2 separate regions of the Homo sapiens genome follow, and region 2 is linked to region 1. Evidence: fine-mapped expression QTL. A gene starts in region 1. The other region holds a variant in brackets. All regions are shown on one strand. Distances are between the middles of the regions. Region 1 holds the start of PPY (pancreatic polypeptide). Region 2 has its middle 16 kb from the start of PYY.

The links. PIP is the estimated chance that this variant, and not a neighbour inherited with it, causes the effect.
Region 2: its variant is the best candidate, but not a certain one, in a credible set for the expression of PPY in macrophages after interferon gamma (Alasoo 2018, PIP 0.59).

What each region holds. Positions count from the first base shown.
Region 1 is chr17:43,936,262-43,946,933 of GRCh38, forward strand. It overlaps PPY (pancreatic polypeptide), which reads right to left and starts at 6,215. Exons shown (of 4, transcript NM_002722.5): 1 at 6,160-6,215; 2 at 5,203-5,393; 3 at 4,882-4,953; 4 at 4,543-4,691. The coding sequence starts at 5,393. The coding sequence ends at 4,667. It overlaps LINC01976 (long intergenic non-protein coding RNA 1976), which reads left to right and starts at 2,000. Exons shown (of 2, transcript NR_136406.1): 1 at 2,000-2,136; 2 at 2,300-2,701. RefSeq lists an enhancer at 1,786-2,286.
Region 2 is chr17:43,964,858-43,975,529 of GRCh38, forward strand. It overlaps a transcript of PYY not described here. Among named protein-coding and RNA genes, the nearest start is that of PYY, 16 kb to the left of the region's middle. The variant C/CT (reference allele first, on the strand shown) is at 4,892.

The sequences.
Region 1 (10,672 bases):
ACACTCTGCTGAGCTCCTCTGCACCTGCCCAGCACCATGGTGATGTCTGGTGGCCAAGTCTGGGCCCCCATCAGCTGTATTCTCTAAGAGCTTGGGGATGGGGGCTGGCACCAAGGGCCCCTCCTCAGGCCCACTAAGGGCATGAAGGAGTTAGGCCAGGGCAGCCTCGTCTGCCATTCTGATGGCCAGGATAGCTACTAGGGCTTCTTATTCCTGCTTGGGGTGGTGGGGATGAGGAGAGTTCCTGGTTAAAAGAGGGTTGAGGGGCCTAGGAGCTCTGGGAGTGTGCATCATGTTTACGGGCATCATAGTCTGTGAATCATTGTGTGTTGCAGGCACAAAATTCTCTGTGCATTGGGTGTGTGAATCCTCAGGCTGGCTTTCCTGTGTGTAACTGTTAGTCATTCATTTAATATGTATTACTGAGTATCTGCTAAGTGCCAGGCACCATTCTAGGTGCTTGTGATCCATCAATAGACAAAATAGGCGAAGAGCCCAGCTGTAATTAATGATGCTTACATTGAGGGAGGATATGCCGCTGGGAAGGGACTCAGACAACAAATATAAGTATAGAATATAGTAAGTTAGAAAGTGCAGGCCAGGTGTGGCGGCTCATACCTGTAATCTCAGAACTTTGGGAGGTGAGGCGGGAGGATCTCATGAGGCCAGGAGTTTGAGACCAGCCTGGGCTACATAGCAAGACTCCATCTCTACAAAAAATTAAAATTTAGTTGGGCATGATTGTATGCACCTGTAGACCTAGCTACTTGGGAGGCTGAAGCAAAAGGATGGCCTGAGCCCAGGAGTTTGAGGCTGTAGTGAGCTATGATCCCGACACTACATTCCAGCCTGGAAGGCAAAAGAAGGCCTTGCCTTAAAACAATAAAATAAAATAAAAAGAAAGAAAAGAAAAAATAGGGCAAAAATAGAGCAAGAAAAAGAGCAAGATGAGGGGTTTGGTTGCAATATTATTTTATTTATTTATTTTTTTAAATCGTAGAGACGGGGCTCTCTGTCTTTTGCCCAAGCTAGTCTTGAACTCATGGGCTCAAGCAGTCCTCCCACCTCGGCCTCCCAAAGTGCTGGGATTACAGGCGTGAGCCACCGCGCCCGGCCAGGTTGCAATTATAAATAGGGGTGTCAGGGTAGGATCCATTTAAAAGGTGGATTTTGAGCTAATGCTTACAAGGGGAGACAGAGCTGGCCATGAGGATGTCTGGAGGAAGAGTCTTCCAGGCAGAGAACAGAGTGACCGTCATTTTGCGGGAACAGCAGGGAGAAAGGAGGGGGATAAGCAAGGAGTTTGCGGGAGAGAGGGCAGTGAGGTTAGGGAGCTGACCAATGGCTTTATGCCGTCCTCATGCGTCCACCTTAGGGTGTGTCTCCTCGTTCGTTTTTTTTTTTTTTTTTTTCTTTTTCTTTTTTTTTTTTTTCTTTTTTTGAGACGAAGTCTGGCTCTGTTGGGCAGGGTGGAGTACAGTGGCGCAATCTCGGCTCACTAAAACCTCCACCTCCCGGGTTCCAGCAATTATCCTGCCTCAGCCCCCAGAGTAGCTGGGATTACAGGCGCCCACCACCACGCCCGGCTAATTTTTGTATTTTTAGTAGAGACGGGGTTTCGCCATGTTGGCCAGGCTGATCTTGAACGCCTGACCTCAGGTTATCCGCCCGCCTCGGCTTCCCAAAGTGCTGGGATTACAGGCGTGAGCCACCGCGCCTCGATGCTCTGCCTGCATCACCGGGCATGTCCAGGTGTGTACCATTCCTCCGAGCACCAGGATGTCCCTTAAGGCGTCCGTGCTCTGGTGTGTGTCCCAGAAATAGACACGACCCTCGGTCTGAGCGCCCCTGCACCCCAGCCTGCCCACCGCGCGGAACACCTGCAAGCTCCGGTCCGGGTGCCGCGCTGACCACAGCCCCGGCATCACGTGACCTCCCGCGGCTCTGTCTGCCCCGCCCCCTCCAGACGCCTGCTCTGCGCTGCGCATTCGCTCTGGCCATAGCGGGCCTCGTGTCGCTGCTGATGCAGCCCGAGGGCGCCCTCGGCGAGGAGCTGCAAGTGCCGCAGCCCAGGGCCGCCAGTTGGCTGAACTTAGGCTCCATCAAGAAGTACTTGGGGAAGCTCTTCAACAGCAGGTGGGCCGGCGGAGGGTGTGAGGAAGGGAGGGAGGGAGGGAGGAAAGCGGGGGGTGGGGGGGGCGCGGGGGGGGGACACGGACGCCACCAGGCACCCCCACGCACATCGCGGCCTGAGCTGGGCTCGGGGAGCGGCCTCATGACTGCAAAGACTTGTTCCCAGCCCGAAGAAATCTAAAAACCACAAGAAAACTGCGAACGCCACGGACACCTCCCCATCAAAAGCCACGAAACCCCCACCATGGACCACCACGAACCCCCAGTGGCTGAACACCTCGGAACCCCGACCACCGACCTCCTCCCGGGGCCCCAGGTAGGACAGCCTGGATGCTGGGCACCGAGCCAGGGGCCTCGGGGCTGGGGGCAGCTTGGGTGCTAGCGAGAGGAAGTTCCTGGGGGCGGGCATGCGGGGAGACACAGCACCCCTGTGGGGGGGGCTTCTTTCTCCAGGCTGGGCCTTGGCCTCCAGACGCCTCTCTGCCCACCAACCCCTTTGTATTGAGAGGGGCCTCGACCCCTCCTCATCCCCTCAGTGAAAACAATAAAGACAAATTTTTGTTGCTTCAGTGACTTCTGTGGGCCTGCGGGCAGGGAGGGACCAGTCCATGGAACGGGAAGTGGGACCCTGTAGTTTCTGCTGTGAGAGAAAAAGACCTCAGCTGTTGGGGGTCCTCCCCTGCCTCCCCTGGCAACCCATCCACCTTCCCCCACTCCACCCACACATGGCCTTGTGGGTCTGGCCCTCCACCCCGTGGTAGAGACACAGATACGGGTCCTGGAGAAGACACTTATTGCCCCTGTAGTCCTGCACAGACAGCACCAGTGTGGGGGGCTCTAACCCAGAGGGAGAGCAGAGGTGAGAGAAGAAACCTCAAAGAAGGGGCTTCAGCTAGACACACCCCAACTCCCACCTGGCTCAAGTTTCTACCAAACAGCCCAGACTCCTCTCCCCATTCACCGCGCATCCCCTTAAGCTGCCAGAGAAAATGCTGGGACTTCAGGCTCCCTCTCCCAGACTCAAACCGTTCTTTTGCGAAACCATCTCTCTATCCAGACATCTTTGGATTTAAGAATCAACCTGAGGCTGGGCACAGTGGCTCACACCTGTAATCCCAGCATTTTGGGAGGCCGAGGTGAGCAGATCGCTGGAGCCCAGGAGTTTAAGACCATGCTGGGCAACATAGCAAGACCCTGTCTCTAAAAAATAAAAAAATTTGCTGGGTGTGGTGGCATGTGCCTGTAGTTCCAGCTGTTTGGGAGGCTGAGGCAGGAGGATCGCTTGAGCCCAGGAGGTCAAAGCTATGGTGAGCTGTGATCATGCCACTGTACTCCAGCCTGGGTGACAGAGCAAGATCCTGTCTCCAAAAACAAACAAAAAATCAATCTGAGCCAAGCAGCTGCATCCTCTAGAAGCTCTTTGCCTTTTAGGACCTGTTTCTACTTCCAGGTCATTTGCACACACCAGATGGAGTAGGACTTGAGGGGAAACACAATTGTGTGTCATTTCCATTTCTGTGCAAGGTGCTGAGCCCAGGAAAGTGGACCCCTCATCCTCCAAACCCATAACCCCATCCCTTGAGACCAAGCATGTGGGGGAGGCAGGAGAAGCCTTTCTAGGAACCAGAAACATTCTAGTTCCCTCACTTCTCCCCTTTACACATGCGCGTACACACGCATGCACACGCGCACTGTCCCCACCTATTCAGGGTGCCTGAGAAGGGCCAGGAAAAGATGGGTTCTCTGGGAATCTGGGAAGTCCTCCCTGGGGCAGGATCCAGGTCCTTGTCCTCCCAGGGCTGGAGTGTACAATCTACAGATTCAACTCATGGTGGCTGGAACTCTCAGCTAATCTAGCCTCCTCCCCTTCCACAGCAGCTTGAATACCTCCTGTGCCCAGGACTTCACTACCTCTCAGGGCAGCCCATTCTCTCCAAATTTCTGGACGGCAGCTCAGGCCCCTGGATGCAGCCATGACTGCCATAGCACCAGAATCGTTCTTCCAGGCTGGGCTGTGCCCCTGCCCCCATGCCAAGGGTGCTTTCGTATAAATTTTGGTGCTTCTGCTGCCTAGGCTGCAGTAAGGCACTGGTGAGGGGTGCACTTGGGGAAGGGTTGTCATCAGGCTGTGTCGGGAAGGTCTATGGGTACTGAACTGGGAAGATTCAAGACTGCCACTTCACAGACTTGCTGAAGGACCATCTGCTCAGAGGAGTCCCTGCCTTCCTCTGGCCACCACTTTTCCCTCTGCGAAGGGGAGAGGATGAGTTGAGTGACTCTGATGACCCCCGCCAACGTTCTGGATGATCCCCTTTTCCTCTGCCCTGCCCTGCCCTCCCCTTTCTCTCCCATGCATTTGGCACTTCCTGCTGCCCCCACCAGGGGTCCACAGAGACACAGGACAGGCTGTGGCTTTGACTTGCTTTATTGAGCCTGTGTGGGAGCAGGGAGCAAGCTTTGGCCAGAGCCAAGGGTGCAGAGGGGAGAGCTGGGCTGGCGCTGCTCATGGAGTCGTAGGAGACAGAAGGTGGCATTATAAGTCCAGCGGGCTGAGCTCCCTGTGAGGACAGGGCAGAACATGGCAGTGTAGGGGGTAGGCCTCGTGCCCTCAGGAGGCCTCAGGCTGGCCCTGGGCTCCTGTTCTCCCTCTTCCACCCCCCACTACACCTTTCCAAGCCCTGATTCAGTCCCACCACCCCCATTTCAGCTCCAGGGAGCTGGACAGACAGGGCAGGGAGTCAAACTCACCTGGGGACAGCAGCATGCGGGGACCCCCACTCCGAGAAGGCCAGCGTGTCCTCTTTGTGTCTTTTCCCATACCTGGGAGGGAAGAGGCAGCAGGGGCAAGCACTGTGCCCAGGTGCCAGCCCACCTGTTTCATATCTGCCTGTAGGCACCATCTTGCCCAGGGCACATTGGTCTAGGCCTGTTGAGCACAGATGCCCTGTTTTCCCAAGAGCAGGCCTGGAAGGGGCTGGGGCTGGGGCTGGGGATAGGGTGTGGCCAGGAATGTGGAGTGGGCCCAGGGTCCCAGGGGCTGGGATCTCTCTCCCCAACTGTGGCACACACCTAGGCCTGGTCAGCATGTTGATGTATCTACGGAGATCAGCTGCATACTGGGCCATCTGCTCTGGTGTGGCATTGTCCCCTGGGTACACTGGCTCCAGTGGGGCTCCCTGGGCACCCAGCAGTGGCTGTAGTAACAGAGCCACGCAGGTGGACAGGAGCAGCAGGGAGAGGCAGAGGCGTGCGGCAGCCATCTGAGGAGCAAGCAGAGGGGAGGTGGAGAGCCCGGGCTGCAGATTTTCCCGTGCCCAGGAAGCAGGGCCCAACTATCCAGCCCCTTAGCCCATCATCCATTTCTCCAAGCCTGGGGACAAGGGGGCAGAGCAAAGGGCCACTCCAAGCTGGCCACTCCACCTCCTAGACACTGCTCTGAAGGCACGGACAGCCTGTCCTGTGAGCAGCCCAGCAAGCCAGGGCCTCGCAAGTTAGAAAAGTATAGCAGAGAAAATGGGGATGTGAGTCCTGGAGACACGGGACTCATGACATCCAGGGCCTCATGGCTCCCAGGAGGCAGCAGCTAGTGGGAATAAGGGCATGCCAGGTCACCCACAGGGTGGGGGACACAGAATGAACTCGGGAAGCCAAGGACAGAAATCCATGGCCTTGTGGGTCTGGCCCTCCACCCTGCGATAGAGACACAGATATCGGTCCTGGAGAAGACGCTACTGTCCATGTCGTCCTGCACAGACCAGCAAAGGCACTCACACAGGGACCCCAGTCACTCACAAGGTCACAGTCACACATTCCAGTTCACAGCCATGCACACGAGTGTGCACACACACGTGCAGTCAGCAGACGGCTCTTCTAGCGTGACAGGTCTGTCCAGATGCAGAAAGCAAGACCCAAGCAGGACCTTAGGCCTCCCAAGGCCCCTGGCCCTGCAAAGCACCACCTCCTCTCCATCCCAGGCCCCAGCCTGGGGGAGGCCCCCAGAGCCCCAGGCAGGCTGAGCCCACTTACCCGGAGTCCAGAGTAAATGGGCACTAGACCAAGCGAGCACCTGCCTCAGGCCGGATGGGCCCCTGCCCTCGGCTGGGCCGCTTTATAGTCCTCAGCCCCCCAGAGTCCCCGCCTCCTGTCAGCCTCTCTCACTCCGAAGCCCTCACCCCTCCTCTCACTGTCTCCTCATACTGGCAACGCCAGTACTGAGGCCAGAGACGGGAGGGGGACAGGGCAGTTCTGTGGGTGCCAGACCAGCAGCATAACAGATAAAACTGGACCACAGTAAAAGTCTCCTGTGGGCCCCCATCACTGACACCCCTTCCCTTTGGGCACCAGAGCAGGCTTGGTTCAAGAAAGATGGGGTTCTGGGACTCGAGAGTGACTGAAAGGTTTTGGTCACAGGCCTTGGAACTAGCTCTCCTGCCTCCCAAAGATCAACCCAAATCATCCAACGGATTCTCTTGGGGCAGAAGATTGAGGCTGCAGCTGGAAGACTGAGGCTACAGCCAGAGCCTCCAGGCTGAAGAATGGAAACTCAGGCCATCCTCTGCAGCTTGCAACTAGAACAAGGTGGGAAGAGGGAAGGGGCCTCAGGTCCTCAGGCAAGGTGGAAAGGAGTGGGGTGCCAGGCTTGGAGAAACCCATTTGGTGGGTGCATAGGATGCAGAATGAGAACTCATGTGCCTGGGTTCAGGGGAAATGTTGAGGGGGGTGCCGGTTTCCAGTATCCATTTCCCTCCCCATCTCAGAGCCCCCATTCCAGGGAAGTGCTAAAAACCAGCTTCATTTGTAAAGCCTCACATTTTCCAAAGTGCTGCCAGCTCAGTCACCTCACTAAATCCCCACAACAACCCATTTTACAGATTCAGGATCTGAAATCTGCTCAGAGATGTCAAATCACTGGCCCCAAACCCCACAGCCAGTCAGACCCCAAAATTTAACTCCAAACCTGGACTGTTTTTTTTCCTAAGTGGGGCCGTCAAAGTATTGTTATAATTTCCCACTTTTTGGCTGAGAAACCTGAGGCTCACAGAGGTAAAGACGCTTGCTCAAGATCTCATAGCTACCGAGGTTCCGAATTCTGGCTTAGATTCTCAACCCCACTAATCCATCCCCACCAGAAGCCCCTGAGTCTCCCCTGCCCAGCGTCTCTTCCCAACCCCCAGTCTCCCTCCCCTGCTTAGGCCAAGGAGTGGTAACTGGCTGTGTCTGAATGACACGGTGACACCAAGTACGGAGCTAAGGACTTATGACTGCTGACGTTCTGCTGTCCCAGATCAGTATACCAAGAAGTTGGGAGATGGGGGGGACTGTTGGGGAAGAGGGGACTGGAGGTGAAACTCCAGGGATCTGGCAGGGTGGGCTTAGAGTCAGACAGACCTGGGTCCAAATCCTGGCTCTGCATTGGCTGGCTCTGTGAGCCTGGGAAAGTAATTTCTTTAGCCTCTCTGAGCTTCACTTTTCCTCTCAGTAAAATAGGCTCATCACACCCATCTGAAGATAGGGAGAATAAAGGAAGGCTCAGCAAACATCAGTGTTCTGCCTTGACCCTCTCAATTTTGATTTTGGTTAACAAGAAGAGCAATAATGCTTCACCAGACAACTTACATTCCACAAAGCAAATACGAAAGTCATTCTGTCTCAGCAAGCCCGGGCCTTTCTCTGGACTGAGGTTTTCCACTTGCAAAACAAGGGTGTGAATTGGTGGCTGGTCTCAGCCTGGCCTTGGGTTTGGCGGGTAGAGGTTGCAGCTCGCCGCCAGAGGGCGCCAGGCTCCAACCCTAGTTAAAAGGATCTGAGCTCCCACAGGACCATGGCCTTGGAGGGACCTGTTCTGGCTGCTACTCATGTGGGGACCCAGCCCCACCCAACAGACAATGGATCTAGGGATTGACTCAGATGCCAGGGCCACTTACAGTTCTATCCTGTCGCAGAGGTAAACCTAAGTGCCTAAGAAATAACAGGCACTCCACAAATGTCAACCAAACCGTAGCTTTCATTTTTCTCCTTTGCAAACAACAGATTCCTCTTCTGGGTCCTCTCAGGGATGTGGTGACAATCCAGGAGGAAGTGGTAGTAGATGTGCTTTCTACACTGCATGGCCATGTGTATTAGTTCCTTCTCATACTGCTTTGAAAAGAACTGCCCGAGGCCAGGCGCAGTGGCTCACGCCTGTAATCCCAGCACTTTGGGAGGCTGAGGCAGGCGGATCACCTGAGGTCAGGAGTTCAAGACCAGCCTGGCCAACATGGTGAAACCCCATCACTACTAAAAATACAAAAATTAGCCGGGCGTGGTAGCGCATGCCTGTAATCCCAGCTACTTGGGAGGCTGAGGCAGGAGAATCACTTGAACCAGGGAGGCAGAGGTTGCAGTGAACCGAGATCGTGCCGCTACACTCCAGCCTGGGCTGTAACAGAGTGAGACACCATCTCAAAAAACACACAAAAAACAAAAAGAACTACCTGAAATTGGGTCATTTATAAAGGAAAGAGGTTTAATTGACTCACAGTTCAGCATGGCTGGGGAGGCCTCAGGAAACTTAAAATCATGGTGGAAGGCGTAGGGGAAACAAGGCACCTTTCTCACAAGGCGGCAGGAAGGAGAAGTGCTGATCAAAGGGGAGAAGAGCAACTTATAAAATCATCAGCTCTCGTGATGACTCACTCACTATCACGAGAACAGCATGGGGAAAACTGCCCCCATGATTCAATGACCTCCACCTGGTCTCTCCCTTCGCATGAGGACTACGGGGATTACAATTCAAGATGAGATTTGGTGGGGATGCAAAGCCTAACTACATCACTATGTCTAGAACACAGCAATGGTTCTCACTCATCTTGATGTGTTCCTGTCAGAGGCGTTTGAACCACAGCGACTCCATCTTGAACAAGGGCTGGGTAAAATGAGGCTGCAACCTGCTGGGCTGCATTCCCAGGAGGTTAGACATTTTTAGTCACAGGACAAGATAGGAGGCCGGCACAAGATACGGGTCACAAGACCCTGCTGATAGAATGAGATAAAGAAGCTGGTAAGAACACGCAAAAACCAAGAGGGTGATGAGCATGACCGCTGATTGCCCTCACTGATTTTTCTTTTTTTCTTTTTCAGCAGAGATGAGGTTTCACCATGTTGGCAAGGCTGGTCTCAAACTCCTGACCTCAAATGATCTGCCCCCATCGGCTTCCCAAAGTGCTGGGATTACAGGCATGAGTCACCGTGCCTGGCCTCGCTGATCATTATACACTAATTATAATGCATTAGCATGCTAAGAGATGCTCCCACCAGCATCAGACAGTTTACAAATGCCATGGCAACATCTGGAAGTTACCCTCCATGGTCTAAAAGGAGGAGGAACCCTCAGTTCTGGGAAATCCCCACCCCTTTTCTGGAAAACTCATGAATAATCCACCCCTTGTTTATTAGTATATGATCAAGACATAACCATAAAAATAGCCAAACGGCAGCCCTGGGGGCTGCTCTGCCTATGGAGTAGCCATAGGCTTTTATTTATTGATTGATTTTGTAGCGATGGAGGCTCACTTTTTTGCCCAAGCTCAAACAATCCTCCTGCCTTGGCCTCCCAAAATGCTGAGATTACAGGCATGAGCTACCGCACCTGGCCCTTGTTTCCTTACTTATCTAATAAACTTACTTTCACTCTACTCTGCGGAATCACCCTGAATTCTTTCTTGCATGAGCCCCAAGAACCCTCTTTTGGGGTCTGGGTCAGGACCTGTTTTCAGTAACATTCCCACAGTGCTTGCCACAGAGCCCTGCTTAAAGAAAGCACCAGTTCCTGGCCTGCAGACCCACTAAATGAAGATGATAGTGGTACCTCTTCCCCTGCCCAACACCACGCCCTCTGGCACAAGGTGGATGGCCACTGGCAGTGATGGGGATGGAGTAAGTGCTATGAGACTAGGAGAGGAACACCCCAGGAACACCTGAGGTCACAGAGTGAATGAAGGCAGGTAAAGGAGCAAAGGGAATGGGGGCCCCCACATACGTGACCCCAGGGCAGCAGCTTGGCCTGCACCAAGTCCTCCATCACACACACTCCCCCGCCCCACCCCCGCATCCTGGCTGTCTAACCACAATCCCTGCTGCCTTCAGTTAATCAACCAATGAGTGGTCATTCATTGCACATCTGTTCTGGGCCTCATGGGGGCAGCGGGAGGTGATGAAGAAGCAAGGGTTCTACAAAGAGGTCAAAGCTACGTGAGGAGCCGGGGAATGGCTTGCTTTTTTTTTTTTTTTTTTTTTTTTTTAGACGGGCTCTCACTCTGTCACCCAGGCTGGAGTGCAGTGGCATGATCATTGCTCACTACAGCGATGTTTCATGGGCTCAAGGGATCCTGCCATCTCAGCTTCCCAAGGAGCTGGGACCAAAAGTGTGTGCCACCATGGCCTGCTATTTTTTTTTTTTATTTCTTGGAGAGATGGGCTCAAGCATCTACACACCTCAGCCTCCTAAAGTGCTGGGATTATAGCTGTGAGCCGTTGCACCTGGCCAGGATGGCTTTTTTTG
Region 2 (10,672 bases), 29 kb after region 1:
TTTATTCTGAGACGTCTGTGTAATATAGATCAAACAAATGCTATTCTAAAATAAATGGGATTTTTAATGCTACCATCTCCTGTGTCCTTGAGAACAAGAATTTACAATGTGGAAGAAAGAGGACACAGATGTCATATAGAAGAGGTTAAATAAACACCCGTCAGTCCTGACTTTGATTTGGAAATCTCTGTTTACAGAAAAGGGCTAGAAACAATGTTGAAACCAATAGCAATGAACATCCTTAGCATCCAGACTAGTCTTTTTTTTCTTTCCTTTTCTTTTCTCTTTTTTTTTCTTCCAGGTTTATTCTGGAATAATGGACAAATAAAAATTGTATATATGGCCAGGCATAGTGGCTCACACCTGTAATCCCAGCACTTTGGGAAGCCGAGGAGGGTGGATCACTTGAGGTCAGGAGTTCAAGACCAGCATGGCCAACATGGTGAAACCCCATCTCTACTAAAAATACAAAAATTAGCTGAGCATGGTGGCAGGTGCCTATAATCCCAGCTACTCAGGAGGCGGAGACAGCAGAATCATTTGAACCCAGGAAGCAGAGGTTGCAGTGAGCCGAGATCATGCCATTGCACTCCAGCCTGGGCGACGGAGTGAGACTCCGTATCAAAAAAAAAAAAAAATTGTATATATTTGGCCAGGCATGGTGACTCACACCTGTAATCTCAGCACTTTGGGAGGCCAAGGCAGGCGGATCACTTGAGGTCAGGAGTTCGAGACCAGCCTGGCCAACATGGTGAAACCCCGTCTGTACCCAAAATACAAAGTTGCCAGGCATGGTGGTGTGTGCCTGTAATCCCAGCTACTTGGAAGGTTGAGACAGGAAAATTCCTTGAACCCGGGAGGCGGAGGTTTCAGTGAGCCGAGATCATGCCACCACACTCCAGCCTGGGCAACAGAGTGAGAATCCATCTCACAAAAAAAAAAAAAAAAAAAAAAAAAAAAGAGAGAGAAACAAGTAAAATTATATTTTTTTCTAGCCATTGTAAGTACAAAACAAAAAATGATTTTTTCCTGGCATTTCCTGTTTCTGCCTATTTACATTGGTGCTCCCCAAGATGAGATGCTTGGCTCTCTTTTCTTTTTTCTTCTTCACTGTAGGGTTGTCATCTACCCCCAAGATTTTAATCACCCCCAAAATCCCTGTAATTTGCTCCTCTGCCGAGTTCCCTATCCACATAGTCCACTGTTTCTAGACATATCCCCATGGATATCTCTCAGTCAGCTTAAAGTCAATGTAGCCTAAATAGCAAAAATAATAAATCAATCTTTCTTAAGTGCCTACACTGTGCCAAGTACTATGCCAGGTACGTCTCACATATTATTTTAGTCTTCACAACACATAATGTACCATCATTAGCCTGGTTTTACAGAATATGAAACTGACACAGAGAGAGGTCAAGTCAGTAGCTCACCCTTATCTTAGCTTGTTATCTGAATTCCCAAATCTCCAGGGACCTCCAGCTCCATGAATGGTATCTCCATCTCTTCAGGTGACTGAGTTGGAAATCTTGACTTCACTCCACCAATGACCTGAGTCATTCTTAGAAAGTCTGAAGAAGGAGCATGCAGTTCTGAGGGTGGCAGCAGGTCCAGGAATTGGAATGTGACCACAGGGGAATTCCTCATAAAGGGCTGAACTTGCCTGAATGAGTTTCCTCTGGAATACAAGGAAGTCATATGAAATCGCAGTTTAGGCAGTGCATTCAAGAGTACATGGCAGACATCGTTTCGTGTTAATAACTATATCCTGCCCTTTACCCCAACACTCCCAATCCTCCTTATCTGCCCTGTTTATTCCCCAGCACTTAGCACTTTCTAGCATTCTATGTAATTGACTTATTTGTATGCTTGTTGTCTGACTACTAGAATGGAGGCTCCATGAGAGCAGAGGTTTTTGTCTGTTTCTTCACTGATATATCCCCAGTGACTAGAATAATGTGTGATACATGGTGGTGGCTCAAGTACACTTGCTGAATGAATGGATCCACATCCTCACTGTCCATGGCTGCATGGTTTACACACAGGCACATACATAAGCATGTATACACACATACACACACATGCACATACATGCATATGTCTTGAAGACAGAAGGCTATTCCTATCCCACCACAGTCCAGATCTTCATCAAAGAAGAAAGCAAAAGGCCAGACGCGGTGGCTCACACCTCTAATCCTAGCACTTTGGGAGGCCAAGGTGGGTGGATCACCTGAGGTCTGGAGTTCGAGACCAGCCTGGCCAACATGGTGAAAATCTGTCTCTACTAAAAATACAAAAATTAGCTGGGCGTGGTGGCACGTGCCTATAATCCCAGCTACTCGGGAGGCTGAGGCAGGAGAATCACCAGAACCTGGGAGGCGGAGGCTGCAATGAGCTGAGATCACACCACTGCACTCCAGCCTGGATGACAGAGTGAGACTCTGTCTAAAAAAAGAAGAAGAAGAAGAAAGCAATTCCCTAAACACTATGCACTCTCCCTTCACACACTGTGCAGGTTAGAGGGAGTGAGATATCAGGGCCTGTCCACAGCAGGCGAGCCCCATACCTCACCCCACAGAGCTGTCACATTCAACTCCCTCTGAAGCTGTGGAACTTGCAGCTCAGACCACAAACTCTGGGGCTAGGATGACTGGGTTGGCCACTGACTAGCTGTGTGATCTTAGGAAAATTACTTAACCTCTAAGGGCCTCAGTTTTGTCATCGGCCACATGTATATAACAATAGCATCTACTTCATATGGTTGTGATGGTTTAAAAAGCTATTAGGTTCCAGATGAGATGGAGTAAGCAGCCTCCACCCTGTCTCTCCTGCTGAATGCTGCTGTGAAACATGGACAGACACGCACGGGGCAGCTCTCTGAAGAGTGTGAAAGTAAACACAGCGGGGAAACGGGGGAAGAAAGCCAGAATTCAACGTTCCACTGAGCTGAAATGAGTTTCTCATTTTTCCTCTGATATTCCCCAGCCTCGATACAAGACAGCGCCAAATCCAGAATGGGCACTGGGGCTACGAGAGGGATCAACAGGAGAAATGCTCGTTCTGCCTCGAGGAGTGGAAAGGGAAGGTCTAGCACTGAGAGAGAGAAAAGGAACTCCATTTTTCTCTTCTTCATTCTCCCGTGCCCCAGCCCCGAGACAATTCCATGGGAGTAGCAGTGGTGACAGTAGTATCAGTGGCTGCAGGGTCCACAGACAACCAAATCTTTCCCTCTCCGATCAAGAGTTGTGGGCCAGGGGCTGTGGATCATGTCTGTAATCCCAGCACTATGGGAGGCCGAGGTGGATCACTTGCGGGCAGGAGTAAGACACCAGCCTGGGCGTGTATGTGTGTGTGTTTATTTTTAAAAACAGTTGTAGTCCCAAGAAGGAGAACCCCTATAGCTTTCTTCTCTCTGTGTCCTCCTGCCACCTGGCCCTGAACACGGACACAATCATAGGAAGTGTGCAGTAGAGCGGGATAACTAAAGAAGAAATAACACTGATTTTACACAATCTCTTCCAGAAAATAGAACAAGAGAAAATACTCCTTCGTTCATTTTATGAGGGCAACATTACCCTGAGACCAAAATGAAACAAAGATATTGTAAGAAAAAAAAACTACAGATCAATATCTCTCATGGACATATATGTAAAAATCTTCAACAAAATATTAGCTGGCCAGGCGCGGTGGCTCATGCCTACAATCCCAGCATTTTGGGAGACTGAGGCAGATGGATCACTTGAGGTCAGGAGTTCGAGAGCAGCCTGGCCAATGTGGTGAAACTCTGTCTCTACTAAAAATACAAAAATTAGCCAGGTGTGGTAGTGTGCACCTGTGGTCCCAGCTACTCGGGAGGCTGAGGCAGGAGAATTGCTTGAACCCAGGAGGCAGACGTTGCAGTGAGCCAAGATTGTGCCACTGCACTCCAGCCTGGGCAGCAGAGTGTGACTCCATCTCTAAATAAATAAATAAGCCGAGCTCAGTGGCTCAAGCCTGTAATCCCAGCACTTTGGGAGGCCAAGGCGGGTGGATCGCCTGAGGTCAGGAGTTTGAGATCAGCTTGACCAATATGGTGAAACCCTGTCTCTACTAAAAATATAAAAATTAGCCAGGCATGGGGGCATGCGCCTGTAGTCCCAGCTACTCAGGTGGCTGAGACAGGAAAATGCCTTGAACCTGGGAGGCAGAGGCTGCAGTGAGCCAAGATCGTGCCACTGCACTCCAGTCTGGGCGATAGGGTGTGACTGCATCTCAAAAAGAAAAAAATATTAGACAACTGAACTCAGGAATATATAACAAAAAAAAATGTATATGTTACAATCAGGTGGGATTTATCCTGACAATGCAAGGCTGGTTCAATATTCAAAAATCAATCACTTGGCCAGGTGCAGTGGCTCACACCTGTAATCCCAGCACTTTGGGAGGCCGAGGCGGGTGGATCACTTGAGGTCAGGAGTTCTAGACCAGCCTAATCAACATGGTGAAACCCTGTCTCTACTAAAAATACAAAAATTAGCTGGGCCGTGGTGGCGGGCACCTGTAATCCCAGCTACTCCAGAGGCTGAGGCAGAAGAATCGCTTGAACCCAGGAGCAGAGGTTGCAGTAAGCCAAGATCTCACTACTGCACTCCAGCCTGGGTGATAGAGCAAGACTCTGTCTCAAAAAAAAAAAAAAAAAAAGCAAATGCTCATATTGATTGATAAAGAAAAACCATTTGACAAAAATTCAAAATCCACTCACAATTAAAAAACAATACTCTTAGGCCAGGCTGGGTATCTCACGCCTATAATTCCAATGCCTTGGGAGGCTAAGTCAAGAGGTAGGTATTGCTTGAAGCCAGGAGTTCAAGACCAGCCTGGGCAACATAGTAAGACCCTGTCTCTACAAAAAAAA[C/CT]TTTTTTTTTTTTGAGATGGAGTCTCGCTCTGTCACCCAGACTGGAGTGCAGTGGCGCCATCTCAGCTCACTGCAACCTCTGCCTCCTGGGTTCAAGCAATTCTCTGCCTCAGCCTCCCGAGTAGCTGGGATTATAGGTGCCCGCCACCGCACCCGGCTAATTTTTTGTATTTTTAGTAGAGATGGGATTTCACCATATTGTCCAGGATGGTCTTGAACTCCTGACCTCATGATACATCTGCCACGGCCTCCCAAAGTGCTGGGAATACAGACATGAGCCACCACGCCCAGCCAAAAGTTTTTTTAATTTGTTGGGCATGGTGGTGCCTGTAGTCTCAGCTACTGGGGAGGCTGAAGTGGGGGAATCGCTTAAACCCAGGAGTGTGAGGTTACCGTGAGCCATGATCACACCACTGTACTCTGCCTGGATAAAAAAACAAGACCCTGTCTCTTAAAAAAAAAAAAAAAAAAAAAAAAAGCTGGGGAAGGTGGCTCATGCCTGTAATCCCAGCACTTTGAGTGGCTGAGGCTGGAGGATCATTTGAGGCCAGGAGTTCAAGATCAGCCTGGGCAACATGAAAAAACCCCATCTCTACTAAAAATACAAAAATTCCTGGGCGTGGTGGCACATGCCTGTAATCCCAGCTACTCAAGAGGCTGAGGCATGGGAATTGCTTGAATCCAGGAGGCAGAGGTTGCAGTGAGCTGAGATTGCACCATTGCACTCCAGCCTAAACGACAGAAGGAGACCCTGTCTAAAAAAAAAAAAAAGACAGTGAGTGTAGTACAGGTGAAATGACAGATAGCTAGGTCAATGGAACAGAATAGACAGTACAGAAATAGACCCATGCAAATATGGCAAATTGATTTTTGACCAAAGTGCAAAGACAACTGAATGGAGAAAGGACTCCTAGAACCGCCAGCATAGTCAGGACACAGAAGGACTGTATCACTCCGAAGGACCCCCTAGTACTATCCCTGTGTGGTCAGGCCTCTCAGCCCTAATGTTTGCACCCACTACCATCACTATAGTTCTATCTTTTAGGGAATATCACACAACTGGAATAATACAGTATGTGACTTATTGAGACAGGCTTTGTCCACTCCTAATGCCCTTGAGATGACTCCAATTTGTTCTGTGTATCAATAGTCCATTCCTTTTTCTTGCTGAATAGTAAATATGCCAATATATTAATGTGGTTTGTTTACTCAGTTACCCATTGAAAGACATTAGGGCTGTTTCCATTTTGGATCAACTATGAATAAAGCGGCTATAAACATTCATGTGGGCATATTCATCTCTCTAGGATAAATACCCTGAAGAGAGTTTTCTGGGTCATATGTAATTGTGTGCTTAATTTTAGAAAAAGTGCAAAATGTTTTCCAGGATGGCTGTACCATTTTGCATTCCCACCATCAATGGACAAGAGTTCTAATTGCTCTGCACCCTCTCGGCACTTCGGATTGTCAATATTTTTTATATTACCCATTCTAATGTGTGGATAGTGCAGCTCATCATGGTTTTAACTTGCATTTTCCGGCCAAGCGTGGTGGCTCACACCTGTAATCCCAGCACTTTGGGAGGCCAAGGTGGGCAGATCACGTGAGATCCTGAGTTCAAGACCAGCCTGGCCAGTATGGTGAAACCCCATCTCTACTAAAAATATAAAAATTGGCCGGGCATGGTGACACAAGTCTGTAATCCCAGCTACTCAGTAGGCTGAGGCAAGAGAATCACTTGAACCTGGGAGGTGTAGGTTGCAGTGAGCCAAGATCATGCCACCACACTCCAGCCTGGGTGACAGAGCAAGGCTCTGTCTCAAAAAAAAAAAAAAAAATTGCATCTTTCTGTTGTCTAATGATGTCAAACATCTATTCATGTGCTTATCTGCCATCTTTATATCCTCCTTGGTGCAGTGTCTGTTCATGTGGTTTTTTTTTTTTTAAGTGGGTTGTTGGTTTTCTTATTGTTGAGTTTGAAGGGTTCTTTATATATTCTGGATACAAGTCTTTTGCTGAATATGTGATTTGCAACTATTTTCTTTCAGTCCGTAGCTGGTTTTTTCGTTTTCTTAACCCTGTCTTTCATAGAACAAAAGTTTTTATTTATGATGAAGTCCAATTTATCAATTGTTCTCTTTTGTGACTCATTCTTTTGGGTGTCCAGTCTAAGAACTATTTGCCTAAACTGAGGTCATGAAGATTTTCCCCTACTTTTCTCTAAAGTTTTATTATTTTACATTGCTTTCCCTTTTGAGCTAATTTTTGTATAAGGTATGAGGTTTCGGTTGAAATTCTCTTTTTTGTGTATGAATGTTTATTGTTCAGACACCATTATTGGGTCTAGGAATCTATACATGTGTTAAAGCTCATAAAGCTGTACACCAACAAAATGGTCAATTTTATTTTATGTTACTTTAGTTATTTATTTATTTTATTTTATTTTATTTATTTATTTATTTATTTATTTATTTATTTATTGAGAGAGGGAGTCTCATTTTGTCACCCAGGCTGGAGTGCAGTGGCGTGATCTTGGCCTGCTGCAACCTCCACCTCCCAGGTTCAAGTAATCTCCTGTCTTAGCCTCCTGAATAGCTAGGACTACAGCTGTGTGTCACCACGCCGGGCTAATTTTGTATTTTTTTTAGTAGAGATGGGATTTCACCATGTTGGGCCAGGCTGGTCTCAAACTCCTGACCTCAGGTGATCTGCCTGCCTCAGCCTCCCAAAGCACTGGGATTACAGGCGTGAGCCGCCACACCCGGCCAACTTTATGTTACTTTAAAAAACATTTTTTTTTTTGAGACAGGATCTCAATCACCGAGGCTGGAATGCAGTGGCACAGTCATAGCTCACTGTAACCTTGAACTCGTGAGCTCAAACGATCTTCCCACCTCAGCCTTCCTAGTTGCTAGGCAAACAGGCATGCACCACTATACCCGGCTAATTTGTATTAGTATTTATTTTTGGTTTTGTTTTGTTTTTTTGAGACAGAGTCTCACTCTGTCGCTAGGCTGGGGTGCAGTGGCGTGATCTCGGTTCACCGCAACCTCCGCCTCCTGAGTTCAAGCGATTCTCCTGCCTCAGCCTCCCAGGTAGCTGGGACTACAGGCGTGCCACCAAGCCCACCTAATTTTTGTATTTTTAGTAGAGACGGTGTTTCACCATGTTGGCCAGGATGGTCTTGACCTCTTGACCTCGTGATCCGCCCGCCTCAGCCTCCCAAAGTGCCGGGATTACAGGCGTGAGCCACCGCACCCAGCCTATTTTTGTTGAGACACGATCTCACTATGTTGCCCAGGCTGGTCTCAAACTCCTGGCCTCAAGTGATCCTCCTGCTTCAGCCTCCCAAAGTGCTGGATTACAGATGTGGGCCACAGCACTCTGCCAAAAAAGTCATTTAAAAAAAAAAAGTTATTTCTAAAGTGCTTAGAACAGAACCTGAAAGTAAGTTTTTAAAAAGTGTTTGTCACTTAAAGATAAATTCCTGGCTTCCTAGGCAAGCCACCCTCCTACTGTAAGCACCCATGGGTGGCTACTGACAGATCAGGAGAGTCTCTGGGGTTTGTGCCTGGTGTGGGATCACATCCTAGGTCGTTGTGGAGGAAAAGTTAAATATTAAATCTGAACTCAATTGAACATGGACACAAACAATGGTCACCAAGTACCAGAAGGGGCTGTGTGAGCCCCTTGAGGCATTCATCCAGCGCTGTTTTGGAGAAATCTCTATTTCAATCTATTCCTATACGTTACTGAAAAACAAAGCTGGGCGTGGTTGCTCACGTCTGTAATCCCAGCACTTTGGGAGGCCAAGGTGGGTGGATCACCTGAAGTCCAGGAGTTCGAGATCAGCCTGGCCAACTTGGTGAAACCCCGTCTCTACTAAAAATACAAAAATTAGCCAGGCATGGTGGCGGCCACCTGTAATCCCAGCTGTTTGGGAGGCTGAGGCAGGAGAATCACTTGAACCGGGAAGGCAGAGATTGCAGTGAGCCAAGATCGTGCCTCTGCACTCCAGCCTGGGTGACAAAGCACGACTCCGTCTCAAAAAATAAATAAATAAGTATATAAGAAAAACAACAGACAATCGCAAAAACAAGTTGACCTTTTTGTGTTCCTTGAGCCTGGTCACGAAGGGCCTTCGTGCCTGGACCTCATGCCAAACAACTCGTTACAAAAGAGCTAGGGTCCTAGATTGTGCCAAAGCTTCATGAGACCTCTTCCTTGTCTGTGCACGGACAAGTGGCCGACTCTGGAGCCGACCCAGGCTGTTGCTTCCCAGTCTGGTGGTGAATCCTCCATAGTCTGGTGAGTATGAATATCTTTTCCCTTCTCCCCTTCCCATTGCAATTTGCTTATTATATCAATCTGCTTATTATTATATCATTTGCTTATTATATCTACATTGCCATTTACATGGGATAAAGGTTGTTTACCCTTAAAGGTATCGTGGGTGTGTCTTTTCTTCCCTCGCGCATTTCCCGCACATAACATTTGTGTCCCCGGATGCTACTGTGCAAGCAGAAGAGAAGCAACAGGCAGATTCAGACCGTCCTGCACAAACTGCCCCCTTTACTAGTAGAGGGTGGGGTGGAAGGGCAGGCAGTGGGGGATGGTTCTAGGTGAACACGCAGGCACCTTTGGAGGGAGGTGTCCCATGGTTGCTCAAAGCCCCACTCCAGAATCCGACAAAACCTGCTTCAAACCCTGTGTCAATTGTTCACCCAGTCTCTGTGGTGTGAGCAAATCATTTCATCTCTGAGCTTTGGTTTTGTCATCTGTGAAAAATAGGTCATAAAAGTGCCCGTAAAGGGTTAGGAGGATTGAATGAAATAATGGCTGTCAGAAGCTCAGGACTGTTGCCAGCTCAATGTAAGCACCCCATAACGTGCTACATTTTCTTGCTATTGTTTGCAATAAAGAGACTGGCAGGATGCGCCCTCAGTGTGAACAGTGGAGTTATCTTTTGTTGCGGGAATTCGGGTCCTAACATTGTATTCTAAAAATGTTCAGAGTTACAGCAAATTGAAAAAGGCTGTTCAGCAAGTGGTGCTGGTGAGGATTAGGATGCTTTTTCTTTCTTTTGGCTTAGCTATAGTTTATATTTTTCTACAGCAGACATATATTATTTCGATAATTAGAAATAAATATGGGGGGGAGGATAGGGAAAAAAAAGTTCAACAGAGTAGGACAAAGGACAGAGCCCTGTGGTGCAAAGCCGCCATCTCCCGCTTTCAGTCATGGATTGCCTTTAGAAGCAGCCTCTCATTTAATTAGAAATTCTTCCAGCCGTTGAGCCATTTCGCCCACACATCACCCCATGTCTGCAGGATGTCAGGAGAGATTGTGCTGTGTGCCTTGCTGAAGTCCAGACATGAGGAGTTGCGGCACTCCTATCCCCGACCAAATAATTCCATCAACGGGGAAAATCAGATCAACCCAGAACCATCTGTTCTTAATGGTTTCTGAACATGTCTTTCCTTTCCACATACTTACAAACCTAGGGGTGGTGGAAAGGGTATGGATTCCGGAGTCAGATGTTCTGGGTTTGAATCCCACTCGCATTTCTTAGCTGTGTGACTTTGAGAGAGTTTGCTTGGCCTCTCTGAGCCTCACTGTAAAAAGAGAATAGTAAAGCTCGTGTCACAGGCTTCTTTTGGCAATTAAACAGTGGGTAGGCTGAGCACAGTGGCTCTTACCTGTAATCCTAGCACTTTGAGAGGCCAAGTTGGGCGGATTGCTTGAGCCCAGGAGTTCAAGAGCAGCCTGGGCAACATAGCG